Linked DNA regions of Homo sapiens: region 2 is linked to region 1. A link means that fine-mapping ties the variant in region 1 to the expression of a gene that starts in the linked region. Tissue or cell type: whole blood. Region 1 holds a variant in brackets; the other region holds the start of a gene. All regions are shown on one strand. Distances are from middle to middle.

Region 1 (2,839 bases):
TCACACCTCCAGGGACTGGACACTCACTACCTCTGGTGGCAGCCTAGGTGGTTTCCTAGCCTGCTGCAAACTTCTTCCAGGGTCTGTAGCAATGGTGACAGACACCAAGAGTCAAATGTGCCAAGGCCCAGGCTCTGGAAGGTCAGAGTTTCACAAAGGCAACTTCAACTGGGGACTTGCCAGGACAGGGCATTGATAATTGCTGCAAAGGTCAGGCGCGGTGTCTCACACCTGTAATCCCAGCACTTTGGGAGGCCAAGGTGGGCAGATCACTTGATGTCAGTTCAAGACCACCCTGGGCAACATGCTGAAACCCCATCTCTACTAAAATCACACAAAAAAATTACCCGGGCGTGGTGGCGGGTGCCTGTAATCCCAGCTACTCGGCAGGCTGAGGTAGGAGAATCACTTGAACCTGAGAGGAGGAGGTTGCAATGAGTCGAGATTGTGTCACTGCACTGCACTCCAGCCTGGGTGACAAAGTGAGACTCAAAAAAAAAGAAAAAATTCTAAGCAGAGAGGATTTTCTGTCCAACTGCTTGCTCAGCAGCTCCTAGTTAAACAGAGAATGCCGCTCTTTGGATGTTCTGGTCAGTCAAGGTGTGGCACAATTTCCTTTCCTCAAAGCATTGAAGCAAGCTTTTCTCTGCACTTGGGCAAGTTCCCTGATTATACCCACAGGAGAAGCAGCCAGTTTCTGACTGGTGGGAGATGGAGATAGGAATGAAGCTTGAGGCTAAACAGGAGCCCTTGCCCCCTCAGGCCATGTGACAAACCCTGCTCTGGTGGAACAGAACTCCACTTCCTCTGGGGTCGGGCATCAATCCCAGATCCTCCTTCCTGGGTCCCTGAGAGACACTGGGAAGCGGAGAATCCCTGACCCTCACATCCCCTGCTGGACTCAGGGCTCCTGGGGGTGAGGGCCACAAGCCACCCAGCTGTCAGGTGCACAGGGGCCTTGGGAACCACTTAGGCCACCCCCCATTTTGCCACTGAAGGGATCACAGCAGAGCATGCGTGACACTTTCCCAAGGTCACATGGCTGGTTTTGCAACCAGCTCTTGTAAAAGGCCCAAAATCCTTTGAGGCAGAGCTGGGCAGAGTCCACCAGCATTAGACAGACTTCCAGTCACCTATAGCAGCAACTTTCAGGAAAAGGACCTTCCAGAACAATCCTGAAGAAAAGAGGGGTATCTCAGAGGGGAGTCGAGGAAAGGGGTCATGGGGGTTCACCTAGGAAGGAGCGGGTCACGGGTCAGTTTCTTGCAGGAGGGGAGTGGGCACGGCTTCTGCTTTCACATTGT[T/C]CTCTGGTGACTGCTGCCCCCTAGAGTTGTCTCTTGTGCAGTGCACAGCCTGTGAGGCTTCTGCGGAAGCCAGGTTTATGCACTGGGGATGAGATAGGGCCAGGGGAGGGGCCACAGAAGGCCCCGATTACGGAGTTTCCTAAGCCTGGATTTCCAAACCACTCCAGATCTACTGAACCAAAATTCCTGCAATGGCTGCTTCCCTCCCAGGGGAAGCCCCGGGGTTTAGGAACCAGCCTGGGCTCTCTAAGTCAGAAAGGGATCGGGACACCTGGCTTGGGTGGGACGTTCTGCAGGCAGCAGAGGGGACGCGGCAGCTGGGGTTGGGGCTGAGGGGGCAGTACCTGTCCGGGGCCGGGCCTCACTTCTCAAGAGAACTGGCCCGGCCGCGCCTTCTCCAGCTTCCGTCGCCGCTCGGGTGGGATCTCCTGCAGGCTGATGCCGTGGTTGCTGGACCTGCAAGGAGGGGGCGGTGGCCTCAGGGAAGGGGAATGGGGCGTGGGAGGGCAGGGCCCACGTCATCGCTGCCTCGCGCGCGGGGGGTCAGACACAGAGCAGGAGGCAGGGGTCCCTCGTCCCTCGCCCTGCCGCGGAGGCCGGCCCCTCACCCCGGTTGCAGGTCAGGCGGTTTGGGGATGGGCTTGTTGAAGCCGCGTCTGCCCACTAGCCAGAAAGTGTCCTCGGCGCCCTTGCCCTGGGGAGACATGGGAGAGGGAAGGACTTAGGCGGACTGGGGTGAGGGGTGGGGGATCTCGAGTCTGCGTGGAACTGGGAGACCAGGTCAGAAGGGTGAGCTGAGGTTTGCAGCCGCGGCCCGGGATGGGCGGTGCCTCAGGACAGGGCGGGGCCTCCGGGAGGGGTTGGGGCCCTGCCTCACCTTCAGCTCCGTGCGGCCTCGCAGCTCCACCTGGTAGCCCGAGTCCAGAGCACGGAGAATCCCCACAGTGCTCAAGTTCACGTGGATGCGGTAAGCTGTGGCGGTGGGGGACGCCGTGAGCTCGGGACTCACCTCCCGTGTCCCCCTCCCACCTCCCCGTCTTGTCCCCGTCACACTCACGCAGCCCGGTGGACTCCATGCGCGAGGCGGTGTTGACCGTGTCCCCAAACAGGCAGTACCGCGGCATGGTGAGGCCCACCACGCCTGCCACGCATGGACCTGTGGAGATGCTGGGGGTCGGCGGGGCTAGCAGGGCCGGCCCTGGGCTGCACCTAGGTAGGGCCTCGGGGGATCTTCGCACCCATTATCTCCACCAGCCCCCCAAATAAGCCTTGTTAAGTGCATCCTCTTCAAGGTAAGCCCCACTCCCCGCTCCATGAGTTGCCTCCTCTACAGGAAATCTGGGGCCAGGCCCTAAAGAGGGAGATGGGCTGGAGCCTGGGAAGACCCGGGAGTTACCCGAGTGCAGGCCTATGCGGATGCGCACGGGAACCTCAGGCATATGGCGCATGCGGAAAGTGCCCACGGCACTGAGGATGTCCAGTGACATGTTGGCGATCTCTGCCGCGTGTCGCTGCCCATTCCGCTGGGGCAGCCC
Region 2 (2,500 bases), 22 kb before region 1:
AGGTGGCCTGAGAATTTGCATTTCTAATACGTTCCTGTAGACGCTGCTGATCCCAGGAGCAGCTTTGATAGGAGAGGTGGAGGCAGGGGCTTTTAATCTCTGTCATGACCAGGACACTCAAGCTGCCCCTCATCGTTTGGGCACACCCTCCCCCATCAGTAACCCCCTCCTCACTGGTACATCTCCTGCCGGGCCTGAAGCTCCTCCTGGCGCTGTTGCTGGAGCACAGGGTGGTGGTCTGCCCAGGACACCTTGGCTGTGGGAGAAGGGGAGTAGGTTGGGGTGGGGAGAGAAACTCACCATCACTACCACCAGCCACACAGTCTCCACGATTGCCACCCTCTACCAGGTCCCCTCCTCCCATAAGTACAGTTTCTCCTACACCAGGCTGCTACCTCCCGCTCCCCAAGGCTCCGCCATTCCCTCTCCTCTGCCCGCTACTCTGTGGCCACACCAGCTCACCTCTCCATTTCACCTGCCCTTCTCCCCAACCCCCAGTCCCCTACCCCTTCCTGTGCTCCCCCTGCAGCCCCAGCCCGGCCCGCCCCTCACCTGTACCCTCCTGCAGCACCAGGGTCCCCGCCCCCTCCAGCCACTGGTAGCAGGGGAAGAGGAGGTGGCCGCCCCGCGGCGGTGTCAGCTGGAACCAGCGGCAGAACCAGGCATCCGGGGCCAGGGGCCCCAGCAGGGGCAGCACTGGGGGCGCCTTGTGCACGCGCAGCAGCAGCACTCGGCCTACGTCCTCCGGGAGCGTCACCTGGAAGTCCTCCTCCTGAGGGGAGGTTAAGTATGCGTCAGGCCGGACCCTCCTGCTCGCCCCCTTCACCTCCACCCCATCCACTCCCACGCACTCACAGCGCCCGCAGTGAACTCCTTGCCGAGATTGTCCAGGGGCAGTGGGGGGCTCTCTCCCCGGGTCCCCACGATGCTGACAGACACTTTGTCCCATGTGCCAGCCCCGAAGGCTTCTCCGGTGGACACCCTGACCCTGAACTCGGCCATGCTGCCAGCCTAAGTCCAGCTCTCTACGGCGCACAGGGCTGCAGAGCGGGGCTCCCCCCTGGGACACGCCTGGTTATTGCCCCTGGTTATTGCCACTGACTCCAAGCCCAGTGGACTCCTCTAAAAAGCACGTCCGTTTCAGGGCGGGGAGGGGCGGGGCGGAGAGGCTGGAACACGCAACTAAAGTGGGGGTGGGCGGGGGATTGGCAGCGCTGGGAACAGGAGGGACTAAGAATACCCTGAGGTTTGGGGAACGGGGCCTTTCAGTGGTGGTGCCAGGCCAGAGAGCCTAGAGTTGGGACCCAGTTGGGGTGGGGGTAGATTTGTGCCCACCACGTCTGTTTGTTTTCCTTCTTAGCCTTAGAAGTCTATGCAAAAATATCACCCCATTTCCCACAACTCTTCTTGGGCCTGCGTTCATTATTTTTAAAATTTATTTATTTATTTATTTTTGAGACAGAGGCTTGCTCTGTCGCCAGGCTGGAGTGCAGCAGCATGATCTCGGCTCACTGGAACCTCCTCCTCCTGGGTTCAAGTGATTCTCCTACCTCAGCCTCCCCAGTAGCTGAGACAACAGGCGAGTGCCACCATGCCCAGCTAATTTTTGTATTTTAGTAGAGACGGGGTTCCACCATGTAGGCCAGGATGATCTTGATCTCTTGACCTCATGATCCGCCTGCCTCGGCCTCCCAAAGTGCTGGGATTACAGGCGTGAGCCACCGCGCCCAGCCTACATTCATTATTTTATTTCATTCAATAATTAATGTTCAGAACTACCTCTGTGCCAGGTGCTATGCTCACTGCTATTGATAAAGGCCCAGGCAAGACCTAGTGCTTGCTCTCATGGAGATTAAAAATCAAGTGTGAGGCCAGGCACAGTTGCTGGCCAACATGGTGAAACCCCATCTCTACTAAAAATACAAAAAAATTAGCCAAGCGTGGTGGCGGGCGCCTGTAGTCCCAGCTACTCAGGAGGCTGAGGCAGGAGAATAGCTTGAACCCGGAAGGCGGAGGTTTCAGTGAGGTGAAGTTGTGCCATTGCACTCCAGCATGGGCGACAGAGCAAATCTCGGTCTAAAAAAAAAAAATCAAGTGTGAGAGAAAATAAGTAAACCAACACATAATTTCAGATGATAATAAGTGCAATGAAGGAAATGAAACAGACTAATGTGAAGGAGTGAGAAGCAGAGGTGGGAAGGGAGGCGTTCAGAGCCTCAGAGGAGGTGAAAGGATCTGTCTGGGGAACAGAGTTTTGTGCAGAGGAAACTGTTCCTGAAGAGGCCCTGTGGTTAGGAAAAGCTTGGCTTGTTGGAGGAGGGAAAGGCAAGAGTGCAGTGAGGGAGGGATTTGGGGGAGAGATGCCAAGGGGAAGTTATGGATTTGGGCTTTGGGGGAATAACATAACAGATTTGGGGTTTTCGGTCTGGAGATGCTAAGTTTGAGATGGCCATTAGACATCCAAGTGGAGAACCCACGTCTGGGCATAGAGCTCAGGACT

Evidence for each region. PIP is the estimated chance that this variant, and not a neighbour inherited with it, causes the effect.
Region 2: it holds the start of ALOX15B, and the variant in region 1 is fine-mapped to the expression of ALOX15B in whole blood (INTERVAL, PIP above 0.99). The same link has a PIP of 0.9 or more in blood mononuclear cells and monocytes.

What each region holds. Positions count from the first base shown.
Region 1 is chr17:8,015,364-8,018,202 of GRCh38, reverse strand. It overlaps GUCY2D (guanylate cyclase 2D, retinal), which reads right to left. Exons shown (of 20, transcript NM_000180.4): 15 at 2,701-2,839; 16 at 2,362-2,460; 17 at 2,182-2,276; 18 at 1,913-1,998; 19 at 1,649-1,760. The coding sequence ends at 1,673. Among named protein-coding and RNA genes, the nearest start is that of GUCY2D, 14 kb to the right of the region's middle. RefSeq lists a silencer at 1,288-1,468. The variant T/C (reference allele first, on the strand shown) is at 1,305.
Region 2 is chr17:8,037,658-8,040,157 of GRCh38, reverse strand. ALOX15B (arachidonate 15-lipoxygenase type B) reads right to left here and starts at 1,099. Exons shown (of 14, transcript NM_001141.3): 1 at 856-1,099; 2 at 553-772; 3 at 175-256. The coding sequence starts at 1,002.